4 separate regions of the Homo sapiens genome follow, and regions 1, 3 and 4 are each linked to region 2. Evidence: fine-mapped expression QTL. A gene starts in region 2. Each other region holds a variant in brackets. All regions are shown on one strand. Distances are from middle to middle.

Region 1 (7,851 bases), 44 kb after region 2:
GTTAGAGGAACAGCAATGTGGCTGATGGACTGTGAGGTCGGAGAGATAATGGCCTCGATGTGTAGGGGGCAGTGAAGAGGATGGGTTGTACAGGCCTTTCTGTGGGTATTTAAAGACTTTGTCCCGGCCGGGTGCGGTGGCTCACGCCTCTAATCCCAGCACTTTGGGAGGCCGAGGCGGGTGGATCACAAGATCAGGAGATCGAGACCATCCTGGCTAACACGGTGAAACCCCGTCTCTACTAAATATACAAAAAATTAGCCCAGCGTGGTGGCAGGCGCCTGTAGTCCCAGCTGCTGGGGAGGCTGAGGCAGGAGAATGGCATGAACCCGGGAGGTGGAGCTTGCAGTGAGCCGAGATCGCGCCACTGCACTCCAGCCTGGGCGACAGAGCAAGACTCTATCTCAAAAAAAAAAAAAGACTTTGTCCTTCACCCTGAATCAGATGGGAAGCCACTGTAGCATTTTGAGCAAGGATAGACATGATCTGATATTCATGTAAGTGGGCCAGTCTGCTGCCATACTGAGCATAGACTGTGAGGGACACAGTCTATGGCCCTTAACTCAAGGCAGGGAGACCAGTTAGAAGGACAGTGCCATCACTCAGGTAGGAGGCAATGGCTGGTTTGAATAAGATGGACTGGATTCTGAGTATGTTTTGAATAAAAGGTTCGATTCTGAGTATATTTTCAAAGTAGAGCCAGTGGGATTTGCTCTCAGATTGCCCATGGGTATGAAAGAAAGACAGAAGGTAGGATGGCCCTAAAGATGTGGCCTGATCCCAGCTGGAAGCATGGGGCTGCTGTTACTCACATGAGGAAGGTTGGGAGGATAAGTTTGAGATGCTTATTGGACATCCAAAAGAGATGTCAAGCTGGCACTTGGATGTAGGAGGCTGGAGCTTAAGCTGGAAATACACTTTTAGGAGTCAACATTTAGCTGGTAGTTTATACCATGAGACTGGGTGAGCTCACCAAGGGAATGAACATTTAAAGAGAAGAGGCCCAAAGCCTGAGTCCTAGGGCATTCCAACACTAAGAGGTCAGATACAGGGAAAAGCCAGGAAAGGAGGCTGAGAAGGACCCACAAGAAGAATGTGGCATCTTAGAAACCAACTCTAGAGGAAGCGTTCTAGGGAGAAGAGTGATCGACCATGTCACGTGTTGCTGGTGGCCCAGTAAGTTGAAGACTGAGACTTGGCTGTTGCCTGTAGCAATGAGGAGGTCATTTGTTGACCTTGGTGAAAGTTTCGATGGGTCTGTAGGGCAAAGCCAGAAGGGGAGAAGAGGAATTATAGACAGCAACTAGAGAGAGCCCTTTAGGGCAGTTTTATTGTGAAGAGGAGTTGGAGGGAGAAATGGGGTTGCAAAGGTTTCTTTAAAGTGGGGAAATTAACAGCATGTTTGTGAGCTGATGGGAATGAGCCAGTAGAGGGAAACATTGATGATGCTGGGGGAGGGAGAAGACAACAGTTGGGGCAGTTTTCTTGAGTAAGCCTGAGACAAAGCAGGAGTCATTCATCTATAGCAGCAGTTTTCAACTTTGGATGTATGTTAGAATCACCTGGAGAAAAAAATCAAGTTGTAAAAAAAATCGCCATTAGTACACCTCAGACCCATGAAATCAGGGTCTCTGGGGATGACTTTGCAGAGAACGTGGGGAAGGAGTTTTATATGGGCACCAAACAGGCAGGTGTGAGGCATAGTTGTGGGAGCATGTGGAAGTTCTCTTCTGATGGCTATTTCCTCAGTGAAATAGGAAGCAAAATTATCAACTGAGCGTGAGGATAGGGGAGGAGATTTTGGAGGTTTGAGGAGAAGAGCAGGTGTGGAATGGTTATTTAGGTGTGGAAAGGCTGCAGTCATTGGTAATGAAGAGGTCTAGGGTAAGGCTAGGGAGATGAGATGCGAAGGGAGAATAAAGGGCAGGCTCATTGGAGGAGAGGAGGGTAGGAACTGAGAGGCTGGGGTCCTGGAAGGATCCTCTACATGGACATTCAAATTATCAGGAATTGGCCAGGTGTGGTGGCTCATGTCTGTAATCCCAGCACTTTGGGAGGCTGAGGAGGGCAGATCACTTGAGATCAGGAGTTCAAGACCAGCCTGGCTAGCATGATGAAACCCTGTCTCTACTAAAAATACAAAAATTAGCTGGGTGTGGTGGTGTGTGCCTATAATCCCAACTACTCGGGAGGCTGAGGCAGGAGAATCATTTGAACCTGGGAGGCGGAGGTTGCAGTGAGCCAGGATCATGACTCTGCACTCCAGCCTGGGCAACAGAGTGAGACTCTGTCTCAAAAATAAATAAATAAATAAATAAAATAAAATAAAAAAATAAAAAGCCAAATGATCAGGAATTAAGACGGGGGAGGTGGCAGAGAGAGAGATGTAGGAGGGTTCTGCCTGGATCTCAGTCAATGGAAGGTGGAACTGGGGGAGGGGCAGCCTCACATTTGATGCTTCAGCAAAACACAAGTATCTATAGGCCCCAGGTGTTGCGTCAGAATTCTTGTTTCTTGTATTCCATGTCTTCCTCTTTTTTAGTTTAATTCCTTATTGGGGTGATCCTCATAATTGTATTTTATTTGTTATTATTTTGCTAAGACTGGTGTGGTAGTCTCCTTACTGGTATTCCTGCCTCTAGTCTTGCTGCACTTCATGTGGCCTCTGACAAACCTCACTGCTTCTCTACATTTCCTCTAGTGTAACTTCTTGAACTACTAAATTGGCCCTGATCACTTCCTTGCTTAAAATCTTGCCGTGAGCCACCATCCCTAACAATAATCAGCTCACATTTGTCGATCCCTGGCTGTGGCTGTCACTGTGTTGAGTGCTTTATGTGTGTTCTTTACGTTGATCCTCATAGGCACTCCAAAAGGCATGTCTGATGATTGCCCTTATTCCATAGGTGATGACACTGAGGGTAAGGGAGGTTAGGTAACTTGCCCAATGCCTTGTAGCTGACGTTATCACAGCATCCAAAGCTTCTTATAATTGATCACTCTCCCTATACACTTCCTTCCTTTTTTTTCTTTCTTCTTTCTTTCTTTCTTTCTTT[C/T]CTTCTTTCTTCCTTTCTTCCTTTCTTCCTTCCTTTCTTTTTTCTTTCTTTCTTTCTTTCTTTCTTTCCTTCTTTCTTCCTTTCTTCTTTTCTTCCTTCCTTTCTTTCTTTCTTTTTTTATGGGGTCTCGCTCTGTCACCCAGGCTGGAGTGCAGTGGCGCAATCTCGGCTCACTGCAAGCTCCACCTCCCGGGTTCACGCCATTCTCCTGCCTCAGCCTCCTGAGTAGCTGGGACTACAGGTGCCCACCACCATGCCTGGCTAATTTTGTTTTTGTATTTTTAGTAGAGATGGGGTTTCACCGTGTTAGCCAGGATGGTCTGGATCTCCTGACCTCGTGATCCACCCACCTCGGCCTCCCAAAATGCTGGGGTTACAGGCGTGAGCCACCGCGCCTGCCCTGTACACTTCATTTCTTACCATTTCTTCCTACCTTGAACTTTGTGCTTTGGCAAAGCTGAATTCTTAAAGGTCCCAGGACCAGTCAGACTCCTGGTAGGAAGGATGTGGCACAGAAAGAGGGTTTAGTTAAAGAGCAGTAATGAAGGGCCCCTTAACAAGAGGTGGGCAGGGCTAAGGGAACCAACGATGATGGTAAAGCACCCAGACCCCAGCACCAAAGGGAGACCAAGGGGCAAGGAGCAGGGCTGTGCTATCAGAACCATGTTGGAGTTGAGACCATGGAAGAGGGTGTGTGTCATAGGAACTACGGGGACATGCAGCCACTGCCAAAATCAGGATAAATCCCATGACTCACCTTTCCTCCACACCTCCAGTCTTCTGCTGGGGCCTGCATTGGCAAATCCAACCAGAAGCCAGAAGATAAGAGAGCTGGGGTAATGCAGTCTGTAGAGGTCAGCTTGCTTGGGCATAAATGAAGCAGGAGAAGGATAGAGAATGGATCAGGAGGGACAAAAAGCATTTCTGTCCCTTGCTTAGAGGAATAAATCCCATGACCCCCACCCAGGGGAAACACAAAGTCCCATCAGCCACTGGATTATTGGTGATTTCAGTTCAATCATACTCCCAATAGGAGCCAAAGCAATAATGTTAGCGACCAGGGCTGCTCTTCATATAAAGTAACAGGAAAAAAAGGGAAGGGAAAAAAAAGCTCTATCTTGCTGGTCATAAGACCTAAGTTGATGTTGATCCTTTTGGCTTCCTTCCTCCACCCACTGGTGGAAGCAGCATCTCTGCTGCTCTGATTTTACCTCCTTGGTTGACCCAAATCTTCATCCCCACAAGATACAAGTTCTTAGTAGCTCTGTCTTTTTTTTTTTTATATGGAGTCTCACTCTGTCGCCTAGGCTGGAGTGCAGTGGTGCGATCTTGGCTCACTGCAAGCTCTGCCTCCTGGGTTCACGCCATTCTCCTGCCTCAGCCTCCTGAGTAGCTGGGACTACAGGCACCCACCACCACGCCTGGCTAATTTTTTGTATTTTTAGTAGAGATGGGGTTTTGCCATGTTAGCCAGGATAGTCTTGATCTCCTGATCTCGTGATCCACCTGCCTCGGCTTCCCAAAGTGCTGGGATTACAGGCGTGAGTCACCGTGCCCGGCCCTTAGCAGCCCTATCTTTATGGGGTTGCCACTGTGGCCACTGACCATCACTATTGGACAGGAACAACTATGAGTCGCCCCAGCAAGTGCTCTGGTCCAGATAGAACTCTCTTTACCCCTATTCCACAGCAGCAGCCAATTCCCCTTGGTAACTGGGTACCTGAGCAGTATGGTGACCCCCTTTGACACCTATGGATTCAGCAGCACGAGAAGCCCAACCTGGCCAGTAGGAGGCTTCAGCTTCCAATGGAGTGAAAACAAGATGTGTTCTCTCTTAAAAGTGGCTGAGGCTGGGCGCGGTGGCTCACGCCTGTAATCCCAGCACTTTGGGAGGCCGAGGTGGGCAGATTACCTGAGATCAGGAGTTCGAGATCAGCCTGGCCAACATGGTGAAACCCCGTCTCTACTAAAAATACAAAAATTAGCCGGGCATGGTGACACACACCTGTAATCCCAGCTACTCGGGAGGCTGAGGCAGGAGAATTGCTTAGGCCGGGAGATGGAGGTTGCAGTGAGCCGAGATCGTGCCACTGCACTCCAGCCTAGCCAACAGAGCGAGACTCTGTCTCAAAAAAAGAAAAAAAAAAGTGATTGAGAGAGAACACTTACCATGGCTCATGCCTGTAATCCCAGCACTTTGGAAGGCCGAGGTGGAAAAATCTCTTGGGGCCAGGAGTTGGACACCAGCCTAGGCAACAGAGTGACACTCTGTCTCTAAGAAAAATTTTTAAAAGTTAGCCAAGCCCAGTGGCACACGCCTGTAGTCCTAGCTACTCAGGAGGCTGAGGTGGGAGGATTCCTTGACCCCAGGAGTTCAAGGTTGTAGTGAGCTATGATTGCACCACCGCACCCCAGTCTGGGAGATAGAGCAAGACTTTGTCTTAAGACATGGTTAAGATGATAAATTTTATGTTATCTGTATTTTACTACAACAAAAAATTTTGAAAAAAAAGGACCCAACTCACACCCATTACATTGGTTAAAATCAAGAAGACTGACCAACCCAAGCACTGGCAGGAAGGCAGAGCAAATACTGAAAAAGGCTTGGCAGCTTCTTGACATGTCTCCCATATGACCCAGCCATTCTACTCCTAAATGATTATTTCCTGCCTTCTCCACTCTCTTCAAATCTCCAGCATCTCCCTCAGAACAAATAAATTGAGTCTCCAGGAATACTCTCTCAAAGAACAGGAACCTATGTATTCTGGCTATAGGGGAAACAGCACCATATTTTGGCCATTGGCTTAAAGTATCTACCACATCGTCTAGGGGAGCACCCCAGCCTCACAGGGTTCTGTCCTCCACTCGGTGCCATAACTGAGCCTTCAGTGGGCCATTTCCCAGATTCACCCACACAGTTGCAACTGAGCGATAGGCACAGCGTAAGACCAGTGGATTCTCTGGGCATAAACTCAGTGCCACAGGTCTTTTGTTATTATGAGTTCCTTGGTTGGAGATGATGTTGTAGGGGTTACCATGACAATAAATAGGGCATTCTGGAAATCTTCAAACAGTGGGACTGGCAGAAGCAGTGCAAGTAGGGAAAGCAAGTCTGTATCTGGAATAGGACTCCACTCTTCTTTTGTTTGTTTGTTTTAATAATAAAATTCTGTTAGTTACTCCAAAGGACTCCATCCTTAAGAGGACAAATTGATAGCCGCCTCATGAAGGAGTGATACAAAGTTAGCATCAACCTATTTCCAGGGGGCTGGCTGGTTCCTGTGGATGGTGCAATGTCAGGGATTCAATGTTGGTTATTTCTAGTATTTAGCAGTTTGGGAACTCAATGGTAATGGCATCCATATGAGCCCCAGTGGCGGGTACCTACTGAGGAAGGATTGGGTAGGGGAAAAACAAGCTGGCTGACATTCACAGGAGGAATTGATCATTTCATCAGCCTGATCATTGAAAGCCTCCTCTGCAGTGGGTGACTCTGATGGGAATGTGCATGATACATGAGTATCTTCATGTGGTGCCCATTCTGGGACCTCTGTCCACATACCTCTTTCCCAGACTTCCTGGTCACCAGTCTTCTGGCTTTGACCAAAGTTCCTGACCAGCCACACAATCTATTACCCATTACCCATTAGTCAATGTAGAGCCATACCCTAAGCCATCTTGCCTCCAAAGCAAAGCAGACAACTAGATTGGCTAAAATTTGTCTACTGGGAGGCTTTCCCTTCACTACTGTCTTCTGGGCCCATTTCTGCATGGAACTTAGTGCAGTGGTCATACACTTCCATCTGATGACCCTTCTGTAAACAATAGATTGATTTTTCTTCATCGTCTATTAAGTAGGCAGAGGGAACTCACTATGAAGCCATAGTTGTGAGTTGAGGGAGAGGTAGCAAAAAAGTAGGAGTGGATACCATTAAAGTTTGAGCTGCTGACCCGGGCAATTATTTGTACCTTCTGGACCTGAGCGAGCTTATTCTTACAGCTGCTATGCAATGCAAGCTGCACACATTCAGCTTTATGACTTGGTGGATTAGGTAAACTCAGCTCATGATGAACAGCGCATGCTGCACCGTTACTTGGTACTCCAAGGACAGGCATTTAGTCCTTACAGGATCTAGATTTAGATTTTCCCACCTATTTATTCTTTCCCAGGATCATTATTCTTCATTGCATTACTGTGCTTCCATCTGGTATCATTTTCCTTCTTCCCAAATAAATTGCTTTATTATTTGCTTTACTGCAGGTCTGCTGGCAAAAATTCTGTTGGCGTGCTTATTAAAAAAAAGACAACTTTATTTTGCCTTTATTTTTGAAGGTAATATATCTTTTTCTTTTTTCCTTTGGCTGTTTTTTTAAGATTTACTCTTTGACTCTGGCTTTTTGCAGTTTTACTACAGTGGAACCAAGCATGGTTTTCTTTGTATTTATCCTGCTTACAGGTCATATGGAACTTCTTAAATCTGTGACTGAAATCTTTCATCATTTTTTGAACACTCTTGACCACTATCCCCTCCTATGTTATTTCTGCTTCAATGTCTCTCCTGTCTTTCTGGGGCACCAGAATCATGTATATTAGGCTGTTTCACTGGGTCTCATGTGTCTGTTATACCATTTTCTATATCTTATTTTTTTCTCCCTTGCCTATGTCCTTCAATATGAATATTTTCTACTGAGCTAACTTTTAGTTAACAAAGCCTCTTATCTGCAGTTCTCGTCTGCTGTTGAATTCATCTACTAGAGTCTTGAATTTAGCTATTTTATTGTTCAGTTTATGTTT
Region 2 (7,851 bases):
GCTGCAGAAGTGTTTGAGGAAAGGTGGGGATGAGGGAGGACAAAGGAGAGGGAAGCCAGGTTCTGAAGACCTTTTCTGGAAAGCAGGGGGTGCCCTGTCCAAAGGGGCCTAAGCTCAGAGGGAGGGAGAGAGACGAACTCCTTCCTATCCATGGAGCGGGAGGTGACGGTGTGAAGCTGGCGGGACTTGCACCCCTTCCAGCCACCCTGGGCTTGGAAGAGAACGCTGATGGGCTGGGGGTACTCATGCCCTGGGACTACCTGGCAACAGGGTGAGGGACATGCTGCAGCCATAGGCGCCCAGAATGTGCATGGGTGTGACTTCAGGCTGAGGCCAAATTGACTAGGCCCGGGGTAGTAGCAGCTGGATGTGGGCTCTTTCTGACCCACTAGCTGCTTCTAACTAACCCAAAAACCCCCAGAAAAACCTTGGCGGGTCAAGAGATGAAAACGCAGCCCAGAGAATAGCTCCATACTGCCCCCGTGTGGTGTTCTCAAGCACTGCCCCCTCCCTATGCAGAAATCTAAGGCTAACAAGCGGATTTCATTAAAGGTCTGGTTTGTTTTAAACAGATTATCTATGTGTAACTCTCCATTTATACAAGATAAATCAGGGAATTACCATTTGCTGTACAAAATGACGATGCACTTTACTAAAGAATTCATCATGGGATTCCTATAAGTGGTGATTTTTTCCCCGATGTGTAAAAAATAATAATGAGGTAAAATTGATATTACACCTTTTATAGAAACCCATCTGTTGTGCAAAAAAAGCATGTGTATTTGGCTAAATACTGAAACCCGGAGGGGCACTGCTGTTGCCAGGAGCCAGCAGGGGCTTTGAGGGTGCCACCAGCTGCTGGAGGAAAGCAAGGAAATGGGCTGGCCCTGGTGGCTTGAGAGCAGACCTGGGCCAGAGTGCCTAAGAATTAAGAGCAGGACTGGGTAGAGACCACCTACCCACAGGGCAAATCCCCAAGCTCCACCCCCATGGTCAGAGAGTCCCATTGAGAAAATCTGGAGTGGCTTTGAAACAGCCCGGGGGCCGGCAGGAAGGCTCAGCGGAGAACCACACTTTGGGGAACACAGTCCTACACCTCTGCCCTCAGTCCCACTGGAAGCCCCGCCCCCACCCCAAAGACTGAAGCATCACCCAGAACCTGATGGGTGGAGAGAAGGACTGAGCAGGTGACAAGGAGAAGGGTGAGGGGAGCGTGCAGGGAAGCGGTACCGGCTGCCGACGCCGCAGCCTGTCTCTACCGTGGGCACACAAAAGAATCAGGCCGGTGCCCCCTAAGCCTACCTCCCCAGAGGGCATTCGACCCGGGAAGCCTCGCTCCCTGCTAATCATTCTTCCTCGCCCCTTCCAATCCCCGCTACTCGCTTACCTGGTCCCTGCGGGTCCCCCAGGGCCCGCCCCTGCACGCCCCCTCCTCGCCGGGCCTCCCACTCACCTGCGGCTCCGCGCGGGGGCGGTGGGCACCGGCTGGCCCTGGCTCTGTGCCTGGCTCTGCCCGGGCGGGGGCGCTGCTCGCTTGCGGGCGGGCTCCATGCCCGCGGGGGCCAGGCCGGGTCGCACGGCGGGGCTGCCCATGTACGGGGAGCCCGGGGGGCCCATGGGCGCCCCCTGGTGGGGCATCCGGGCTCCAGACGGCATCCCGGGGCGCTGGGGGTGGGCGGGGGTGAAGCAGAAACGGGCGCCCGTGGGTCAGACCAGGGCCCCCCGCTCCAGGCGCGGTGAGCCGGCGTCTCCCCTCCCCCACCAGACCCTCGGCTGGTGACCCTGAGCGTTGAGCGATGGGTGGGAGCGATGGGTAGGAGGGGCAGGGGCGCCGGAATCTGCGCGGCTCTGGCGGAGGGGCTTGGCGTCTGGCTGCAGGAAGCTAACTGAAGCCAGGCACCGCACAGGGCATTGCGAGCCTCGGGGCTGCGGAAGGTACCGCAAAAATGAATATTAATGGCGCCTTTCAACCTTTCAAAGATGTTCACATCCACATGCTCCTCTGCAAGACAGCCTGAGCAGGTCCTTTCATCCCCACTTGACGGATGGGGCCACTGTGGCTCAAGGAGAAAAATGACCTCGCCAAGGTCACACAGCTCATCCTGGCCCAGGCAGCCCCTGAAGGGCTGCCTCCTGGGGGCCCAGGGCTTTGCTCTCTGCGGCTTGGTTGAGGTCCGGTACCCGGCTCCCTGCTCCGACTTCTGCTCCTCCTCCTGCTCCTCCTTCTCAGGCTCCACTTCTTGGGCGGTTCTGCCTGGTACTCACTAGCTCATCTCAGCCACTCTGCTCCCTGTGTCCCTGCTTTTGACCCTTGGGTCCCAAACCCCACTCCCCTCGGCTGACTCCAAGTCCCCACATCCAGGGTCTTCGCTGACCAAGCTGCCCCCATAATTTGCTCCCAGGGTGAGGGCTGGAGGCAGGGCAGGCAAGGGCAGCCTGCTGGGGCGCCCCAGACACAGCCAGGATTCTCTGATTGGGAGGAGGGGAACTGCGTTAGAGGTGGGCTGCCCAGGGGGGCCTGGGGTGGGTCAGGGCAGTGACACTTGCACTCACATTTCCCTTCCTGTCTGCCCAGGTCAGCAGCCACCTCCTCCTCTTCCCATCCCCACCCCAGTGAGGTCAGCAGTCAGGGTTCATGGGGGCTGTGGAGACTGAGAGGAGGCGGCTCCTCCTCCCTTGCCACTACCCCTGGGTGGTCAGATGGGGTGTAAATGAGATGCAAATGCATCGAGCGAAGTGTTCCAAACCCCACTTGTCCAGACTCCAGAAGGGAGATGGGGAGGGCCAGAGAGAGTTTCAGGGGCTGTGAAACAGAAAGAGCGGGGTGGGATGGGGACTGGGACCACGAAAGCAGGAAGAAGATCAGAGGGCAGGGGATGCAGACCCTGGCACTGTTAACATGGACACACCACCCACCTCACCCCCAGGCATGAGGAGGGGCCCCCTTGGGCTTGCTGTTTTCCTTCCAACTGCTACCTCTCCCTCCTGGTCCTCCAGGCTCTGTGTCTAACCCTAATGTCCTCCCACCCTCGGTCAGCAGCTGTCTCTGCCTATCTCTCCTGCAGTGAAACCTGCCTGTCCATGTGTCTGCTTCCCTCACCCCACCTGACCCTGTCACTCAGGCCTCCAGGGTAGCAGCCCAGAATGGAGCCCAGGCCTGGCCACCAGCTAGGTGGGGCACTGGGGCTCACAGCCACTCAAGAACTGAAGCTGTAAGTTGACCAGATTAAAAAAACAGTCCACGTGTACAGCCTCTCCCCACTAGATGGGCCTTTTTAAAGGGGCTCCCACCAGCAGCCAGGTTAGGACTGGTAACTCAGCTAGCTGACATGGACACCTTGGGAAGTTACCCCCAGGGGTCCCTGGGGCTGGAGGACAGGCCACTCCAGGGAGTCCCCCTCTTCCTGTCAGCTGCTCTCCCCAGTTATCAAGGCCAGGGATACTGGCCCATCTGCTGAAGAGGCCCTGAGAGGGAGGCTTTCAGAGCCCCCAGAGAGCTGTGCCCGCCACCAGCCCCATCCCCATGAAAGGCCAAAATCCTAGGGACTCTGGCCTTACTGAGAGGGTGTCTTCCTTGGGGTCACAACCAAATTTGGCCATAGTAAACCCGACAGCTTCCTCTACACAGGGCCTCCACTCCCTCACCCATCCCAAGAGTCGCAGCCCCTGCTTCTCCCATTCCCCACCCCTCCATACCCCTCCCAGCCGGGCCCTACTGACTCAGCTCCAGCCTCCCGGGCTCCCACGTGCCTTCACAGCCTGCCTGTGGCAGGACAGTGCTCCCCTGTCCCTTCGGTCTCTAGGCCTCATGTCCCCAACTCCAGCCCCTTCCTTCACATGTTCGAGGAGTTAAGGACATCAGCTTCTGGTGGCTGAGTCCGCCAAGGAGACCCTCAGAGCCCCTAACTTGGGCTAAGTCCCTAGAGCGGTCCTCTCCCCCACCCTAAGGCAGAAGCTCCAGAGCCCTCCCGCTGGGATGCAGAGGTGGCTCAGCCTGCGAGCTTCCCGCTACAGTGCCTCCAGGGTCACCTGCTCCTTGCTCCGGAGACACAAGCAGTGACACTGTCCCAACGGATGAACAGACAGCCCAGCCCAGCCTCTGCCATGTCCCCATCCCCCACCCCCACCCCCAGGGCAGGGGCAACACCTGGGCCCACAAGGAAAAGAACGAAAGTCAACCTGTCGGCTACAGCGAGGACCCCCTACTTGGGGGGTAGAGTCCCCAAGTCCCACCCCCGCCCCTGACAAGAGCCATGCAAACGCCTCCCTTCCCCGCCTCGCGTCAGACCCGGCCGGCCGCCTGGCGACGTGTTCGGGTGCCAGGGCGCCAGCACAGTCCCGCGGCCGGGCCGTGGGCCATGACGCCCCCCACTAGAGGGGTGGGAGAGCGGGAGCGCCCTCCCGGCCCCTCCCGATCAGCCCTCCATTCAGCCCGAGCCAGCTCGCTTGCCCTCCCCCGCTAACTTTCCCCCACTCACCACCCCATGGACCAGAAACTCAAAAAGTTTGCTTTTCGTGGCTTTGCGCGCCCCTCCGGCAACTTCGTCCGCGGCCATCGGGGTGGGCTCAGCGGCTCCTCTCACTCTCTCTCTCTCTTCCTCTTTCTTTCCCTTTTCTGCCTTTTTTTTTCCTCCAACTCTCCCCTCTGAGTCCTGCTGGGCTCTCTCACACTTCTACTCGAGCGGAGTGGGGAGGGGGCCCCTTCAGGGCTGCCCTGACGGCCCACGGCCCACGCCGCCGCCGCCCGCCCGCCGCCGCCGCCGCCGCCGCGGCTGCCGCATTCCTGCACTGATAAGACAGAAATAGTCCGGCGGCCCGGGGTCTGCCTGTTGACTCGGCGGGGACGGGGCCGCCTGCCTTTCCAAGCCCGCTGTCCAAACAGCGCAGATAAGCGGCGAGGCGCGCCGACCAGCCCGGCCGCGGGCGCTGGGCAGCAGTGCTGCAGCCCGAAGCCGCCGAGGCCCGCGGGAGGCGGCGCGGGGAGGGGACGCCAGGGGAGGCGGCGGGGGGTCGCCGGCCACCGGCTCTCGCCACAAATAGTTTCTCCGTCAGGGAATTCGCCGGCCGCGCCAGGCAGGGAACAGTCAGTTCCAACTTTTCCCCCAGCGGCTCCTGCTGCATTTCTGAGGCCCTTTCCCCAGAGACCTGGCAGGCCGAGCAGGGAAACATTCGCTGGCAGGAACCGGGGGAGCCCGGCCCGCGAGGCCTCGCGCCTGCCCGGGGCCGGCGGCGGTGGGTGTGCCCGGGCGGCGGCGTGGCCCTGCGTCCACTGCTGTGTGTGCCCTTGTCTCACACGCCGTGTGTGTCCGCGCCCTTTTGTGGCGTGGCAGCTTATGTGCGTGCAGACAGACGCCCTGTATGTGTGCCTCCCTCCACGACAGCCTCCGTGCGCGCGCGCCTGCGTGTGTGGCAGGACATGGCCTGTGCCTTTCAGCTCTGTGAGAGGCTATTTCTGGGTATGTGAGTCTTTGTTTGCCGCTCTGTGAGAAAGTGAGGGCAATAGGGGAAGTATTTCAGAAAGAGGGACAGGGATTGTGCTCATGAGAACAGGAAGAGAATGAATGTGGGGAATGGCGCAGCGCCAGGGGGGTGCTCGGGTGGGTGCGTGGAGAGAACGAGGCAAGCTGGGCTTGGTTTCCTTGGGGTGGGGGTGGAGTGGGGTTAGGGGACCCAGAGGAGTTGGGGCAGCTGGGCTGGGTATAGTGGGTATATTGGGCCGGCCTCAAGACCCCAAAGAGAGGGGTCTTGAGGCTGGGGTGTGGCGTGGGGTGGCAAGGGAGCCCCAGAAGGGGCGTGTGGAAGGAGTTGGCAGTCCCTGGAGTGGAGGAGGGACCGGAAGGAGGAGGGGCAAATCCTGACATACCCAGGCAGGGAGTCCTGGGCCTACCCAGGTCCCCAAAGGCCACGCCCCTTTTTTCTCCTTCTTGGGGAGGAGCCGTGGGCTTTGGAACAAGGCCCTTGGGTCAAGTTTGGGGGTCTGCTGGGGCCTCACTGTGAGAATCCAGGTGAGGGCAGGACCATAGCCTAGTGCCTAGGGGAGTTTGTTGAAACACTTACTTGAAGTTGGGCCCTGAAGACTGAAGGGTACTGACCCTAAACCCTTCAGAATGCCTTTGCCCAGGGGGTCCTTTCTGCCTGCAGCCTGATTTCTGCTGGCCCTGGTTGTGCTCTTGGCTGTCACTGTTCATTTAGGTGCCCACTGTCAATCTGAAATGTCAGGGAGGACATCTGGTCCAGGTTGCTCCTCCACCACCCCTAGCTTGAAAGGGGACCTAGAGATCCCCTTGCTACCAAATCTCTCCCAGGGCTTTAGCCTAGACTACCCCCCACACACCCCCACACACAGAGCCTGGGCCCTGACACGGTGGGGATGGGTGGGTGGCCTGCCTCTGTCTGCCATAGGTCATGCTGCTGGGAACCTGGGGAAGTGACTTGCCCAGTCTGCCTGCTAACCTCCAGAATCCCCGCTCACTCCCATTTCTTAGCCCCTGCCCCCGATTCTTTTACCTGGAATGCCCTTTGCCTGCCCTCTGCCTTCCCTCTGCTTGTCCAAATCACACCTATTCTTTAAAGCCCAGCCCAGGCCCCACTTCCTCCAGGAAGCCTTCCTTCGTCCTACTTGTATGCAAAGATTTTTCTCTTCTCCAAATGCTCATTGCCATCTACCCAGCACCATGAATTGGCATTGGACTGGCCTGACGTGCACTGTGCTTCAAGGACATTAGCTTTGCTTTCCCAGAGAGGCTAAGGTCCCCATAAGGTCAGAGACTGATCTTTAACTCCCACTCTTCCTCCATGCCTGGGCACAGGAACTCAACAGTACCCCAGATACCTGATGCTTGCAAAGCTTAATGAGCCAATGCATGGAGCTGGTACTCTGCCATTTACCTGATGGTGTGAGTTACCATGGGCACCCCCACCCACCATGGGTGCGTCTAGCAGGGGCATGGGAAACCACAGGCCTTGGAGGTTCTGGGGGTTGGAGATAGACACCCCTAGGCTTTGTTAAAGCTCAGTGTTCTCAACTATTGGAGAGACCTTTTGGGAAAAGAAGACAGCAGAGGAGATGCTGGGCACTCCAGTTTGGGTAGCTGGGAAGTTTGAGGCAGGGCCTGGGAGATCCCGGGCTTGGTCTTGGTGGTGGAAGAGGTTGCGGGAGGTAGTTAGACGAGGGGCTATGGTGAAGCCCCTGTGGAGGAGCTGGTGAGCTTCACCCAAGTCCATACATAAGCGCTCTCCTGAGCCACCCCTCTGGGAGACATCCTTAAGTGTACACAGACAATAGATACACCTTGCACACACACCCTCCCAACACACACACAGCAGGCACACCAATACAAGCACCAAAAGGTCGAGGAAGCCACATGGCTCTGCACACACAGGCACACCTTGAGCACCTCCACATCCCGTGGTGGGCCCCATTCACAAGGCAGGCCCAGACACATTTGCGTACTGCTTTTAGGTGGGCGACAGGAGGAGCCTTCAGACCAGAAAGCTGGGGCGGCGCCAGTGTGGGGGCCCGGGCCAGGGCTCCCTCCTCACAAAGGCCAGGATCCCCAGTGGCTTAACCCCAGAAGGGCGCTCGGTGTGCCACGCCGCCGATGGCTCCTGCGGGTGGGAAGGAGGCCCGGGAAGAGCGTGGATTCCTCCCAGCGCAATAGGGCGCCCGCCGCACTTGGGGCAGGCCGTGCGCCTGTCGGGGGCGAGGGCGGCCGCCCGGCGCCCGGCGCCGCAGTCCCCCCTGCCGTCCCCCCATCGCTCCTTCCCTCGCTGAAGCACCACCAGCACCAAATGGCAAAGCGCCGCTCCCCGCGCAGGGAGAGATGCGCCGCGGCCTGCGGGACGGGCTCG
Region 3 (7,851 bases), 22 kb after region 2:
GGGATTACAGGCACGTGCCACCAGGCCCAGCTAATTTTTATATTTTTAGTAGAGACAGTGTTTCACCATGTTGGCCAGGCTGGTCTCAAATTCCTGACCTCAAATGATCCACCCACCTCAGCCTCCCAAAGTGCTGGGATTGCAGGCGTGAGCCACCGCACCCGGCCATTTTTTTTTTTCTACTCTACGCAAAACATGTCTCCCTATCCCCTACTTGTAAAGTTGTCTTTTTGTCTCAAGAATGGACACAGAACATTTACTCCTGTTAATATTCATCTTCTAAGAATTAGCCCATAATTTCTAGAAGGTGAATGTTGACAGCTTTTGAATATTAATTCTGTTATCCAAAATATTCACCATCTTTTCTGGCTGTGTGTTATTTACAAATCCAGTGAGTGTGACCATCGATCTGCATCTATATCTTTGCTGAATGTATTGAGAAAGGGACAGGAAGCAAGACAAGGCTCTCTCTCTCCAGACTAATGTACACCCTTTGGGGCTTCGTCTTTCTTCAATTCTTAGCAAATTTGCCCAATTATCGTAACATCCAGCCGGCAATGTGCTAGTGTGTCATGTCAGCGGCTTAACATCAGCCAATATGGGAGGTTTTTTTTGTTTGTTTGTTTTTTGAGATAGGGTCTGGCTATCGCCTAGGCTGGAGTACAGTGGTGTGATCATGGCTTATTACAGCATGGACCTCCTGGGCTCAAGCCATCTTCCTGCCTCAGCCTCCTGAGTAGCTGAGACTATAGGTGCATGCCACCATGTCTGGCTAACTGTTAAAATTTTTTGTAGAAATGGGGTGTTGCTTTGTTGCCCAGGCTGGTCTTGAACTTTTGGCGTGAAGCGAGCCTCCCGCAGTGGCCTCCCAAAGCGCTGGGATTACAGGCCCAGCCACTGCACCCAGCTGGTGGTATTTATACCACAGGAATTGGCGAACGATACAAACCGGAGTTCTGCTCCCACTCCCCGTCCTGCCAAGAGCCAGTTGTTAAACATTTACCCGCACACCACTGCATCCAGCCCACGTTTATGTATCATACCCTAAAGATATAGGGAAACACTTTGTCAAACACCTCCAAATTAACACATAGAGCTTCATGGAGCTTAGCCTACAAAACAGTTCAACATGCATTATCCAATTTGGTTCTCTCCACACTCCAGGAAACTGAAGGGATGACTATTACTGTATCCATTTTAAAGACAGGAACACAAGGCGTAGAGAGTTCTTTAAAGACTGATTCAGAGCTGGAGAGCGAGTTAATGTTGAAAGTGAGGCTCAAACTCCTGTTTTCTGATCATAAGGTCCGTGTTCTTTCTGAGTCACTATCTGACTGCTCCCCCATTCGTTATCGAATGTACTGCGAAGTCCTCAGGGGTTGGTACTCCGGGTTTAAGACACAGACAAGTTGAGAGGGATTCTACAACAGCCCCTGCCCTTCCCATTAGCAGCCATCATGAGGATTTATGAGCACTGCTTCTCAAACTGGGATTCAGATCTGTTCTAGGGGGAGGGTCCTCAAGTTTTTGAAAAGACTCTGCATTTTGTTTATAATTTCATTGTTGACAAGAAGCCAACTGAAGTGACAGCAGGCCAGGTGCAGTGGCCCAAGCCTGTAATTCCAGCACTCTGGGAAGCTGAGGTGGGCGGATTGCTTGAGCTCAAGAGTTTGAGACCAGCCTGGGCAAGATAGCAAGACTCCTCTCTACGAAAATTTAAATATATTAGCCGGGTATGGTGGTGCACACCTGTAGTTCCAGCTACTTGGGGCACTGAGGTGGGAGAACTGCCTGAGCCCAGGATGTTGAGGCTGCAGTGAGCCATGATCGCACCACTGTACTCCAGCCTAGGCGACAGAGCTGAGATCCTGTCTCATAAATAAATAAACAAATAAAGTGACAGCAATTCTTAATGCAGTGTTTCTCAAACTGGGGGCCCTGAGTTCTCAGGGAGAAATGCTGGTTTGTTTTCTGGGCTGGGGGATAGAAGGGAGGACAGGGGACAAGTGGCAGGCAAGGAAAGCTCAAGGTGAGTGTTACGAACTGGGCAGGGCAGATAGGTTTTGCTCAGCCCTCACTGTGTCCTAAACACTTTAATTAGGCACCAACCTTAAAGACTGAGAGATTTCACATCAAAGCCAGATTTCCAGAATCTCTTAAAAAATGAGAAATTTGGCAAGACCAGACCACCAGTCCATTTAGAGACAATCGGGTGGAGCTGAGGAGGGGCTGCCCCTTTTCAGAGGGGCGAGAGCCCTCCGATTTGCCACATCTCCTCCCCATTCCCTATTTTAGGGGTTACAAACTCAAATGACCCTAGGGACACAGCAGTGAAAGTCAATGAGTGGAACAGGCTGTGTGTGAGATGATAAATGGCCTTTGACCTTGAGCCTCAGTGCTGGGGGCAAAAGAGGAGGGGCTGGGTTGAGACCCTGAATAAAGGGGTGGCTGTCTTGTCTCTGTGAGGGCCCCTGAGGTTTGGGCACAGCAAATTTCTGAGGGCTAAATATGGTGGAGAGACCCCAGTTGGGACTCTTGCCCTGACCACTGGGAAAGTTCCTTCATGCCCTGTGCCTCAGTTTCCTTATCTGGAGAGGATGATGATTATAACAGCACTTACCTTATAGTGTTGTGGTTAGGATAAATTAAACCACACAAAATTCTCTCTCTTTTTTTTTTAATGTAGAGATGAGGTCTCGCTTTGTTGCCCAGGCTGGTCTTGAACTCCTGGCTTCAGGCGATCTTCCTGCCTTGGCCTCCCAAAGTGCCGAGATTACAGGCATGAACCACTGCGACTGGCCTAAAATTCTTGAAATAGTTCTCAAAGCCCACAATGATCCCTCAGTCTTTACTGGCTGCTATTACTCTGCCCCCAGTCACTTCACTCTTTCACTTCCTGCAGGTCACTGTGTTTGTGGCAGCTGTTCTTGAATCTGAGGTGGGGGCTGTGATGGCAGGTGGCAGGGGGAGACATCCCTGCCCACTGAATGGATCTAAAGTGTCTCAAAGACAGACTTTTCTTTTGAAGGAAGAGGCCTGGGTAAGATGCAAGTGAGGTGATGGTGAAGGGGGAGTTAGAAGGGAAACTGAGGCAGGAAAAGGCAAAAGCACAGTGCTGCTTCCTGCTGGGCAGAGTGGAGTGGGTGCTGTAGACCTGAAGCTGGAGCTCAGCTTCTCTTGCATCTACTTAGGCCCCCACGGGGGACACCTTCCGACCCACCAGCACCTCCTTCAAGCCTACACACCCTCGAGTCCCCTGCTGTGGATTCAGCTGCCGGCCCACCCTGAGCCATCTCCAGGGACCACAGGGCTCTCTCCTGCGCCCTGCTGGCTCACTTTTTCTTTTTTCCAATTAAAAACTTTATGAAAGGCAAAGAAGACAGGCCTTTCACACCTGCAGACTGCATCAGGCTGGATGGGAGCTGTGGGCTGGAAAGATGGGCTAAAGCTAAGATAGCTCCATGTTGGGGCTGACAGATATGGAACAGGAAGAATGGACTTCTGCGTGTCTGGGTGGTGGCCAGTGGCGTATGCGGGCAGCATGAATGGCAGGCTGGGACCTGCAACCAAGGGAGGCATCGGTGGCATTAGATGGTGCTCTGGGGTCCACAGATGACACCTGGAGCAGGGACAGCGCTCAGCATCCCATGTGAACACTTGCAGTGGCGAGGGGCGCTCGGTGAACGCAGGCATTGTGCAGAAGGTCCGCCATCACCATTGCTTCTTTATAGAAGGGCATGATGTCCCATTCTACAGATGAGACATGTCACTCAGAAAACTGAGTACCCCTTCCCCATCTGCCTGGCTGGAAAGGGAGAGCTCACCTTCTAGCACAGGCACAGGTGGCTCCAAGTGTGGGCCATGGCCTTGGGGGATCTTCAGCGCTCCCCAGGGGGCACGAAGGCTGGGAATATTTGAAAGAGCCAGAGCTGGATGTTCCGAGCGGAGACAGAGCCTGTGCGAAAGCTGCCTCCAAATGTTGAAAGGTGGTCAGATGGCTTGGAGGGAGAAAGGGGTTTCTCCCTGCAACTCCAAAAGGCAAACCCAAGGTCAGAGGGAGTGACATTCTCCCTCACCATAGGAATAACTGAAGAGGGAATGAGCATGGAGCACTCCTCCAACCACGGAGTTACAGGAGGGAGACGCGGGGCACAGGGCAGCTCAGGCGACAGCAGGACAAGGTTGGCAGGCAAGAAAGGCCCACTCTTGCATCGTGGTGGTGTAGAGAGGGTGAGGCTGACAGCACCAAGAGGGATCTGGGGCTCATTTTAGAATCAGCCGTAG[A/G]GCCACCCCCTCTCTGTCCACTGCCTCACACATTTGCTCATTCATTCAAGAAATACTTCTCTGTACTGTGTGGAACAAGACAGATGCAGCCATGCCTTTAAGGAGCCCTGCAACTCAGTATTAGCCTCTTTGGTAGGTGCTGCAAGACAGAAGAGAGTGGGTGGGCCTTCACGCCCAAGCCGGGTGGGAGAAAGCCTCCCTGGAAGAGGTGGAACTGACGTGGAGGCTTCAAGGATGAGTGCAGTTAGCCAGGTGAAGGGAGCTGGGAAGGGTGTCGGAGGTGCAGGGAACAGCATGTGTGAGGGCCCTGAGTGAGGGCACGAGAATGAAGCCACTAGGAAGTGGAAGGCGGAACAAATCAGATTTGTGTTTAGGAAGCCCATTCTCGTTACTGTGCTGGGCCGGGGTCTGATGCAGGGACAAGGCTGAGTATGCGGCACTCAGATGGGGGCAGAAGATCACAGTGTGTGGACCAGGGCAGTGACGTGGGAAATCAGAAGCAGATGGAATTGACACTTATCTAGGAAATAAAATCAAATAAAAGGATGTGGCAGTTGTTCCAATGGAGAGGTAAGAAAGGGGGTGGACTTGGTCACTTCAGGTCTGGACCTGAGCCTCAATATCACTGTTTAGCAATGTGGCCCATCCACCCCACTGCAGAGGGGCCCTACTCCCTTGTCTTCATGTGTTCACAAGGAAACATGTACTGTATTCCCAGGAGAGGAGATACTGGAATGACCCTGGCCCTCTCCCCACCCTTCCTCCCTGTGGGAGGAGGCTTTGTCTGATGAGGTGGTGAGGGCCTGCACCAGCCGCACAATCCCTTTCCCAGGCGGGTGGGGTGAAGGTGCTGAAGGCAAGGCTGCTTACCCTGTGGCCAGCATTCCTCTTCTAGACGAGTCTGTTTTAGGACACAGATCATCTCCTTCTGTTCCCATGCCCAGGTAAGCAAACCCAGGTTAGGGAGTAGGACCTGCCTTCTACACTTGGGCCTCAGGTTCAAGCCTCTCTTCAGCTTGAATTTCCTTGCACTTAAGTTAACTGATGCCTGTGCCTGTTTTTCCATGGGTTCAGGACCTGTGGGGAAAGACCAGGACTGGTCCCTCCTCATACCCAAACTCACCTGTGGGGCCTGTGTGCTTAAGGAGCTCTTTATTTCCTATAAGGATATTACCCCTACCTGGAGAATGTGACTCTGTACTTAATTTCCAATTTTAAATAAACCTTCCTGCTGCCTGATATTTATCAGAAACATTGTTGTAAATATCAATATAGAGAGTATTTCCTGGCCAGGCTCGATGGCTCATGCCTCCCAACACTTTGGGAGGCTGAAGTGGGAGGATTGCTTGAGCCCAGGAATTTGAGACCAGCCTAGGAAATATAGTGAGACCTCATCTCTACTAAAATAAAAACAAAACAAACAAAAGCTAGGGGGCATTGTGGCTTACGCTTGTAGTCCCAGTTACTCAGGAGGCTAAAGCAGGATCGCCTGAGCCCAGGAGTTGGAGGCTGCAGTGAGCCATGATCACACCACTGCACTCCAGCCTGAGCAACAGCGTGAGACTCTGTCTCTTACAAAAGAGAAAGAGGGTATTTCCTGAAGGTAGCAATGCATTCCTCTAGTTGCTCCAAATTTTAAGTTTGGGTTAAGCAATATTACCAGTAGGTTTATGGCTGGGGAGTATTGTGTTGGTCCTTGCCTTAGCCCTAGGAAGCAGTTGTGACATTGTTGAGAACATTGCATAACTTTGTCACATGGTATCCCCTTCATTTCCTCATACAGGAGAGACCTCCCAGTGGCTCGGGACCAGAAATCACGTGATTTGAGCAAGTTGTTTGATTTTTATCTCATGCACAGTGTAAATCATGTAACTGCTTGCTTCTCTGCTGGCATCGGGGTCTCTGGGCCTCGTGGTTTGCATTTGGTGCAGTAGCCACATCCTAGGCAACACCATGTTTTCTCTACTCTATCTCTGTCTCAGTTTCCTCACTATATGTATCTTTGCAAACTACCTGAAACCCTTTTCAGGATGAGGCGGAGCATAAGAACACCTCCCTGTGTCTTCCTCTCCCTCCCTTATGGCACAGTGTCCCTCACTCTAGGGCATTTTCCCAGAACGATCTTCAGTCTGGGAAAAAGGTTCACATGGGAGATGGTCCAAGTTTGTAAGTTGCAGTAGGAGGCCTGTGTGGGGCGCACGCTCATGAGGCACGTTCTCAAATCCCTGGAAGTAAGTGTAGAGTGCCAAGAATCGGTGTCACAGCTTGGAAAGTCAAGAAACCGAACGCGCTATCCCAAAATGTGGGCCTGGCTGAAGTGATCAGCCCTCCTCTACGGTCCTTTATGAGTCACCAAGGATTCCCACACCCCTCATTAGCAAGGAGCACAGGGGGACACAGCAATGGTCCCTACAAGATGTCCCTCAGCCAAGTACCCGTCAGAGGCAGGCGGTGGCCTCAGCTTGGCCCCTCTGGTACAGCAATTCCAGATGGTTAGGAGTCCAGCCACAGCTGAGGGAAGTCCACTCATCCCCGATGGGTGGCTCAGCCTCCTCCCAGTGACACCTCTAGCTCATTATCTCCACCACTTAATTTTCACTAATCATGAGCACTCACTTGCAGTCACACCGCCAGTTTTGGGGTGAGGACGGACGCCTAGGCACCAGCACCAGGGCCTGTCAGCATCCAAATGCCCAAGTGCCTGCCTGGCTGCCAAGAGCCTGCAACGCACACCGCCGATTGCATGTGAATGCAACTCCAAGATAAGATGCCAAACTTCCACCACCTTGTCACTCTTGGAGCTGGGGCTTCTGACTCATGGCCAGGGTCACTCTGGGGCCAGGTGTCACTAGGATGGACCTACTGCCCCAGGGCTCCAGCTCCAATCTTCACAGGCCTCCTCTGCCCTCCTTCCCCTGTGCCCATCCTGCAGTGACCCTTCAGGAAAGGTCTGGAACAGCCCAAGGCTCCCTCCGACTGCTGCTGGGGAGCCCCTTAGGGCCTAACGAAGGGCATGTCAAATATTAGGAGGACTCTCCACGTGGGGGACCACTTCAGGTGCACCCCTCCAGGAAGCTTAGCTGCCTCCCATCAGCCTGCCCCCCGTTCAACCTGGCCTCTAACCTCAGACACCCCAGAACTGTAGAGTGCTTGGTTTAATATACTAGTTCTCACCTTTTCTTTATGAATTTCAGCTAAAACACCAACCACCACAAACTGAGCAACCAGTCCCCAGTTCACCTCAGGTGCTGGGGAGGTGTTGGGGATAAGGGTGGGACGTTTGCTTGGAGGCCTTGACTTTCCTGCAGGTGGACTGGGGCTTCAGGTGTGGGGCTGGGCATGCCGCCACCAGGTGTGTTTCCTTGGTGATGGGTACCAGGTGACTGGTGCCTGCTGCTGCCCTGTGTGGCTTGGATCCTCTGGGCCAGGCCAGCTTCCCCAAAAGCCGGTGCCCTGCCCCATTTTGCCCTGGGCCTGCACCTCACTGGAGGAGGAGGGGCACTGGGGCAGTTTGAAGGGGAACGGGGCTGTCCCTGGCCTTCAGAGCAGCCTGGCAGGAGGATGAGT
Region 4 (7,851 bases), 63 kb after region 2:
TGGAGGAGAAGTTGATACTGTTTGGCTGCATCAAGATACATTCAGGAGTGCTGGGCGCAGTGGCTCACACCTATAATCCCGACACTTGAGGAGGTCAAGGCAGGCGGATCCCTTGAGCCCAGGAGTTCGAGACAAGCCTGGGCATCATGGTGAAATCTTGTCTCTACAAAAAAAAAAAAAAAATTAGTGTGCATCTGCCATTCCAGCTACTCGGGAGGCTGAGGTGGGAAGATCACTTGAGCCCGGGAGGTGGAGGTTGCAGTGAGCTGAGATCACACCACTGCACTACAGCAGCCCGGGTGATAGAACAAGACCCTGCCAAAAAAATATAAAAAATGTATCCAGGAAGGCTTCATGGAGATGAAACTTCATCTGGTTTGTAAAAGATGGACAGACAGCAGGGCTGGAATCTCTCAGGGGCAGGAAACACTGAGCTTGTAATGACCCCCGAGGTGTGTGGGTGACTGTGCCCTGGGTCAGGTGATGGGGCTGGCCCAATACTCAAGATAAGGGCTGACGTACAGAAGGTATCCCTATTGTGAAGGCTGGTTGAGCCACCCTCTGCTCCTAATCTGAGACATCCCATGGAGAAAACAATGGCCTCACTGTATTCACCTAAGCCCAATCACAGCCAAGAGGCTTGAGCAGCTGAGGCCCACCAGGTAAAGATCGAAAGACCAATAAGCAGGTAAAGGTAGGGACACATCCTGCTTCCTCCAGGGAACTGAAGGGTGGAGGGTCCTGCTGTATAGGTCCCCTTGTGGGGATTCACCAAGCCCTCCCTGTGTTCCCCATAGAGTCGGAATCATGGCACCAGAAGGGACCTTAGAGCCACCCAACTTCTGAGCAAAGGCCAGAGGGAGGTGGGATTGGCCCAAGGTCCCGCTGCTCATTGGTGACAGGGCTGGGTTTAGAACCCATGTTTCTAGACCCTCACTCCCTTTGTCCTCATGGGGAGGGGCAGCCTTTCAGGAATAAACACTCAAAGACATTCATCTGCAGGTCATCTGCACTCAGCTCGGGGGCATCGCAGGGCGTCCGGTTGTGGGAAAGGGGACAGTGGGCCAGAGGGGAGGGGTTGCCATTTGCAGTTTGACTCAGGATCTGCATTTTGAGCTCCTGTTGAAGATGGAATTGCTCAGGGTCATTACGCATGCTCTCCAAATGTTCACATCTCCCTGTTCTGTATTTTCTGGGTCAGGGTCCTCAGGACTGTCCCCTGCCTGAGGGCCCTGAGCAGCCCTGGGGGCAGACGCCTCCCAGAGAGACACAGAGCCAGGTTCTGTTCAGAAACGCCTTGGGCTTCCAGTTTTGCATAAAGTTTGCTGGTAAGTGAGGCTGGCAGCACTTCTGAGGCTGGAGTCAGCTCCGTGGAGGCAGGGCCCTCATCTTATTCATCCCACCTCCCCTCAGAGGCTGGCACAGTGCTTAATACACAGAATGGGCCAAATACCCTTGTGGAGAGTAGCCGGCTCTTATGGGTTAAGTTGTGTCCCCCAAAAGATGCCAAAGTCTTAACCCCCCATATCTGTGAGTGTGACCTTATTTGGAAACAGGATCTGTGTAGATGATTAAGATAAGTTGTGCTAATCCAATATGGCTGTGCCCTTTTAAAGAAGGGAAATTTGGACACAGAGACAGACAGGCACACAGGGAGAACGCCATGCCATGTGCAGATTGAGTGAGTGAAGCCTCTGGAAGCTGGGAGGGAGGCCTGGGACCGAGCCTTCCCTAGTGCCCTCAGAGGGGGACTAGCCCTGCCGACACTATGGTCTCCAACTTCTGGCCTCCAGAACCAGGAGACCATACATCTCTTTTGTTCAAGCCAGTAGGAAGCCCCAGGAAACCAATGTATGGCCCAAAACACTGCCTGGTTTCCGCCTCCTGCTTGCCAGGCTGGTCTGTCTGTCTCCCGGCCTGCTGTGGATGTTTGCAGCCCAGCTGCCAGGGAGCAACATCAGTGAGACTGGGGTCATGGGTCCTGTGCCCCATGGACTGCATGTGGGACCCAAGCACTCAGCAGCCTCCCCAACCCATGTGCCTCAGCAAGGGGAACAGCTGGTGGAAGAGAGCGCCCTGGCCAGGGTCGCGGAGGACTGGGCCTCTATCTAGTTCCATTATGAGGCAGGGGTCCCTCCATCCTGCTTTGGCTCTGTGACCCAGTCTCTGACCACTTTCTTATTTAAGGAAAGACAAATAATTCTTGTGCTCCACAAGTCCTTGCCAATTTAATGTCATTTTCATTTGCAGCCTTTTAGGCTATTTAATTTGTAAATTTCCCTCAATAATTCCAGCAACATTATTTTCAGAGCCCTGATTGCAGCATTTACATTTTTTAGTATTCCATGAACCGCACTCTGAGATGTGTGGCTGCAGCCATCATCAGGGTACAGCCAGAAAGCACCCCAAGGGTGGGCGCCCTCCCATCCTGCCTGCAGGCGGTGGCTTGCTGGCATCTGTGGGAACTGCCCGTGTCCATGTGCTGAGAGGAATGACCTGCAGGAATGGGTCCCTCTGCACCCGCTTCCAGGACTGCCCGCCAGCGTGCAATTCCCCATCTGCTGCTAAGACCTTCCTGGATCAATATCCCTCATCTGGGTCATCCAGGGAAGCTTTTGCACGTGGTTTCACACTTCTCAATTCCAAGCCCTGAGGGGCTGGTTATTCTCCTTTCTCCCCACCCCACCCTACCCCAGGTTCATTCCCAGCGCTCTGGTCTGCTCTGTGTCTCAGGGCTGGCCCAGCGGGTGCTCAGGGTGAAAGGAGAGGGGCCGTGTCTCCGAAGCTCCCTCCCACCTCCTTGCCAATCGTGGGCAGCAGCCACGTTCCTCAGGCCACTGTCCCTGTTTTGTGATCTAGCCTCAGCAGCCACCTCCTTTATTGTTCGAGGGGGCTGGAACTGGCCCTGCAGCAGCCTCTGGAAACCTCAAAGCTACATCATAACCAAGCAAGTCTGTGGAGTCCCCACCTCCTTTGGCCACTAGCATCTGGCCTGTGGTCTGGGAGGGTGCAACTCACAGATGGAGCTTTGACATGTGTGGGTCCTGCCACAGCCAGGGAGGCTAAAAGAGTGAGTGTCTGGCATTTCCTGCTTGTACAGTGGGAGGTGATTTATGCCTGGTAAGAGGGTTTCCCTAGATCCATGAAGACTGAAGATATGTGATGATAGATGAAGAACTTCCGGTGTTGGAAGCCTTAGTGAGTGCCAAGGAAGTTCCGTGTAGCCCAGAAAAACTGAAAAACCATCATAAGTTCTGACTTGTCTGTAGCAGACCGTGTTGGAAGTGCCAACTGCATATCCCTTCAGCAGAGTAGACAGGGCACATCTTTTCTTTTTTTATTATTTTGAGGCAGGGTCTCACTCTGTCACCCAGGCTGGAGTGCAGTGGCATGATCATATCTCACTGCAACCTCGACTTCCCGGACTCAAGTGATCCTCCCACCTCAGCCTCCCTAGTAGCTGGGACTACAGGCATGCACCACCATGTCTGGCTAATTTAATTTATTTATTTATTTATTTATTTATTTATTTATTTATTTATTTATTTTGTAGAGACAGAGTCTCACTATATTGCCCAGGCTTCTTTTTTGATGGGAATGGTATATTTGATAAAACTTGAATACCACCTTTTAGCTACAATGTTAAAAAATTGTTTTGCAACATTGTAATAAAACCAGTGAGAAACTGTAGACTCTAGATTTGGTTGTACAAGATACCTTCTTTTGTCATCAATTTGAAATTAATGAAATCTGGAACAAAAGTAATAAAGATGACAGATAAAATTGATAGAGGTTATTTGGACATTGAGAAGCAAATTGTAACAAAACCCTTTCCAATCACATAAAAAGCAGCAATTGATTCAGGAGAAATGATACATTTTGAATAGAAACAATGAATAAGCTTTTGGGTTCTTTGATAAACCAATGAGTGAATCCTAAGAACATACAGGAAAAGGATGGAACTTCTTTACAATTTGACATGAAATGCTGACATTGAGGCAACAGTGTTTGTAGAGCACCATGTCACAGAGGACACCCTGCCATGCATTCAAAGGGTTTTTAAG[A/C]GTAGCCACTAAGCACAAAACCCATGAAATGCCCTGGAATCTTAAAACTCATATATGAAACTTGACAGGTATTTTCCCAGATTTGAAAATAATATTTCAGATATACAATCATTATGACCAACAGAGGGCAGTAAAGCTGTACTAGCCAGGTTCCAATCAGGAGACAGAAACCACACGATAATTTGTACAAGGAATGTTTCCCATAGATAATTAACTTTAGGCCAGGCACAGTGGCTCACGCTTGTAATCCCAGCACTCCACCCAGCCGAGCCTGGTGGATCACTTGAGGTCAGGAGTTCGAGACCAGCCTGGCTAACCCATCTCTACTAAAAATACAAAAAGTAGCCAGGCATGGTGGTGCATGCCTGTAGTCCCAGCTACCTGGGAGGCTGGGACATGGTAATCGCTTGAACCCGGGAGGCGGAGGTTGCAGTGAGCCGAGATCGTGCCACTGCATTTCAGCCTGGGCAACAGAATGAAATTCAGTCAAAAAAAAAAAAAAAGAAAAAAGAAAAAAGAATTGACTTTAACAGGGGATTGGAGTAATAAGGCCTGGCTAGAAAGAAGTTAAGAGAACTCTTGAAAAATGCAGGAATGGCAGATAGAGGCACAACCATCACTCTTAGGGCTGAGATAAAGCACCCCAGAAGAAGGTCCCTGCCACGGCTGAGATCCAGACCTGATGGGAGAGATCGTGGCAGAGAAGTCACTGAGGTGCCAGGTTGGCAGAAGCAGCTGGAAATCTGCTCTCTGGGGTATCAGAGGAATCACCCACAGTGACACGTCATGTCTCAGAACAGTCTGCAAAGCCACAGGAGAAAATGCAGGGGGAAGCAATTCCCAGGACAGTGCCCTAGTGGCCACAAACTCCTGCAAAGCTGCCCAGGGGGCTTCCAGAGAAAGCTACTGGTGCCTGGGAATTGGAGTTGGTGCTGCAGAAGCCACACATGCTGCTGGAGCTGCCAGACACTGCAGAAGCCGGGTGCCTTGCAGGAGCAGGTGTAGAGAAACCTCATGGGCAGCAGGAGCCTCCCAAGAGGAGTGCACCAGACAGTGAAGAGAAACCCCTTTCTCCTCCCGTGTCTCTTCAGCGCCCTCTACTGACAAAGCTTGACATGCAGCTGCAGGCAAAGGGCAACTAATTACAAGGCTCAGCTCAATTCTAGGAGGTCAGGCAATGAGGGACGTATTAGGAGCTGAGATACAATAAGTTGACAACTGGCACAGAAGCTAAAAGAAACTTTTCTAAATTAATAAATCGCTAAATTTTAACCCACCATGCTAGAGCAAAGATCGTCTTTCTAATTTCTCTGATAAGATTGTTGTCATTTAAAGAGTCAATTAAAGAGCCTATAGCCAAAAAATGAAAAAAAATTATAGATATGTGTCAGACAGTTAATTAATAAAAATATTTTATTTTTCTGGATTTTGTAATGTTTGTGGTATTTTTTACTTTTTAAAATTTATAACTTTTTTCTCATTCTTAGTAATATTTATTTTCATTCCTAATATTGTATTTGTGGCCCAGTCTTGGCTCACTGCAACCTCCGCTTCCTGGGTTCAAGTGATTCTCCTGCCTCGGCCTCCCAAAGTGCTGGGATTACAGGTGTGAGCCACTGCACCCGGCCAGTATTGTGTATTTAAACATAATGAAACATGGAAAAGGTACAGTAAATGTACGGTATAATCGTATGGGTCCCATCATCTTATGGGACCACCGTCATGTATGCCGTCTGTCATTGGCCAGTATCATTATGCAGCACATGACTGTGTATTTGGGAGTGGAATATGCCAGCATTCCATTTAGGGGGGTTCAAGACGTTCGTTGTGGCATGACTTGGAGGGCATCTCCTGCTTCCTCTATTAGATGATAACCTCCTTGAAGGGCAGAGCTAGAATTAACGCTGGGGCGGGGGGGCTCAGAGGCATCATCTAGTCCAATCCCCTTGTGTAGGTGGGGAAACTGAGGCCCATAGCGAGGCAGACCCCTGAGACCCTGAGAGGCAAGACCATGTTGGTGTCACGTTAGAGTCCAGGGCTCTTTCTAGTCTTCCACAGGGTGTGTGTGAGTGTGAGAGTGTGAGTGAGTGTGTCAGTGTGTGGGGGCTATGTGTGTTTGTGAGTGTCTGACTGTTGGGGAGTGGTGTGTGAGTGCATGTGTGAGTATGGGTGTGTGTGGATATGAGTGTGTGAATGTGTGTGAGAGTTTGTGAATGTGTGTGGGTGAGTGTGTCTCTGTGTGTATGAATGTGTGGGGGTGGTGTGTGTGTGCGAGTGTGAGGAGTGATGTGAGTGCGTGTGTATATATGTGTGAATGTGTGTGTTTGTGTGAGTGTGGATGTGTGTGGGGTGTGAGTGTGAGGGAGTGGTGTGTGTGCGTGTGTGTGAATGTGTGAGTGTGGATGTCTGGGGGTGTGTGTGAGAGTGTGAGGGAGTGGAGTGTCAGTGCATGTGTGTGGGTGTGTGAATGTATGAGTGTGTGAAGGTGTGTGTGGCTGTGAGTGTGGGGGAGTAGTGTGACTGCATGTATATGGGTGTGTGGGTGTGTATAAATGAACGTATTTGTGAGTGTGGGTGTGGATATGTGTGAGTGTGGGTTGTGGGGATGTGTGTGTGTGAGTGTAGAGGAGTGTGGAGTGGTATGTCAGTGCATGTATGTGGGTGTATATGAGTGTGTGAAGGTATGTGTTACTGAGTTTGTGTGTGAGTGGGTGGGAGAGGTGTGAGTGAATGTGTATGGGTGTGTGTGGGTGTGTATGAGTGAATGCGTGTGTGTGAGGGTGGGTGTGAGTGATGTAGGGGAAGTGGTGTGTGAGCACGTGTATGGGTATGTGTGGGTGTGTATGAGTGAATGTGTATTTGTGAGTGTGTGTGGTGTAGGAGTGGTGTTTGAGTGCATGTGTATGGGTGTGTGTGGTTGTGTATGAGCATGTGTGAGTTCGTGTGTGTGGGAGTGAGTTTGGGATGTGTGGGGAGGGTGTGAGAGTGTGAGTGTGGGGGAGTTGTGTGGGGGAGTAGTGTGTGTGCATGTGTATGGGTGTTTGGTGGGTGTGTATGAGTGAGTGTATTTATGTGTGTGATGTGGGGGAGTGGTGTGTGAGTGCATGTGTATGGGTGTGTGGTTGTGTATGAGTGTGTGTGAGTTCGTGTGTGTGTGGGGTGTGTGTGTGAGAGTGTGTGTGAGTGTGGGGGAGTGGTGTATGTGTATGTGTATGGGTGTTTGGTGTGTGTGAGTGAATGTGTATTTGTGAGTGTGTGTGTGGTGTAGGGGGAGTAGTGTATGACTGCATGTGTATGAGTGTGTTTGGTTGTGTATGAGTTCATGTGCGTGAGTGTGGGTGTGTGCGTGACTGTGGGTATGAGTGTGTGTGTTTGTAAGTGTGAGTGTGGGTGTGAGATGGAAAGGGGGGCAGGGGTGGAGAGAGATGAGGCAGCCTGAGCCCCGGGACGCTCCCCACCCGTTGACCCAGGAGGCTGAGTCAGGCGCCAGTCCCCACTGCCCCGGCCGCCTCCCAGTTCTTGGCACAGGAAAGCTTGTGCTGGGAGCAGAGCCACAGAGGCTGTTCTTAGAAAATGGCATTGGTTGGGGACATGTAACCAAAGGCTGGAGAACTCGCTCCTTTTCAGCAGTTAGGAGAGGGGCTCTCAGATACTCTAACCCCAGCGCATCTTACCAAGGTCCTGACGGTCTCAGCAGCAGGCTGGGCCAGGGTCCCGACGAAAGCCTTAAAATAATTCATGGGTCAAAAGCATGAACTGAAAAAATGTTAATATTCTTCGTAGTCCG

Which allele goes with the higher level. Positions count from the first base shown, and alleles are read on the strand shown. Sizes are in standard deviations (SD) of each study's normalised expression. Not every link is listed here.
As copies of A replace G in region 3, the expression in gastroesophageal junction of the gene that starts at base 4,688 in region 2 goes down (small effect, 0.36 SD a copy in GTEx).

Evidence for each region. PIP is the estimated chance that this variant, and not a neighbour inherited with it, causes the effect. A credible set is the group of variants that fine-mapping cannot tell apart.
Region 1: its variant is the best candidate, but not a certain one, in a credible set for the expression of SMARCD3 in whole blood (TOPMed, PIP 0.52).
Region 3: its variant is the best candidate, but not a certain one, in a credible set for the expression of SMARCD3 in gastroesophageal junction (GTEx, PIP 0.79).
Region 4: its variant is the best candidate, but not a certain one, in a credible set for the expression of SMARCD3 in whole blood (TOPMed, PIP 0.60).

The regions. Positions count from the first base shown.
Region 1 is chr7:151,287,601-151,295,451 of GRCh38, forward strand. No RefSeq gene overlaps it. Among named protein-coding and RNA genes, the nearest start is that of SMARCD3, 43 kb to the left of the region's middle. The variant C/T (reference allele first, on the strand shown) is at 3,057.
Region 2 is chr7:151,244,007-151,251,857 of GRCh38, forward strand. It overlaps SMARCD3 (SWI/SNF related BAF chromatin remodeling complex subunit D3), which reads right to left and starts at 4,688. Exons shown (of 13, transcript NM_001003801.2): 1 at 4,479-4,688; 2 at 1,454-1,665. The coding sequence starts at 4,556. RefSeq lists enhancers at 632-1,206, 1,207-1,780, 1,781-2,355, 2,356-2,929 and silencers at 1,443-1,742, 1,763-1,842, 2,917-3,211, 5,259-5,348.
Region 3 is chr7:151,266,103-151,273,953 of GRCh38, forward strand. It overlaps a transcript of SMARCD3 not described here. Among named protein-coding and RNA genes, the nearest start is that of SMARCD3, 21 kb to the left of the region's middle. The variant A/G (reference allele first, on the strand shown) is at 4,285.
Region 4 is chr7:151,306,515-151,314,365 of GRCh38, forward strand. No RefSeq gene overlaps it. Among named protein-coding and RNA genes, the nearest start is that of NUB1, 31 kb to the right of the region's middle. The variant A/C (reference allele first, on the strand shown) is at 4,065.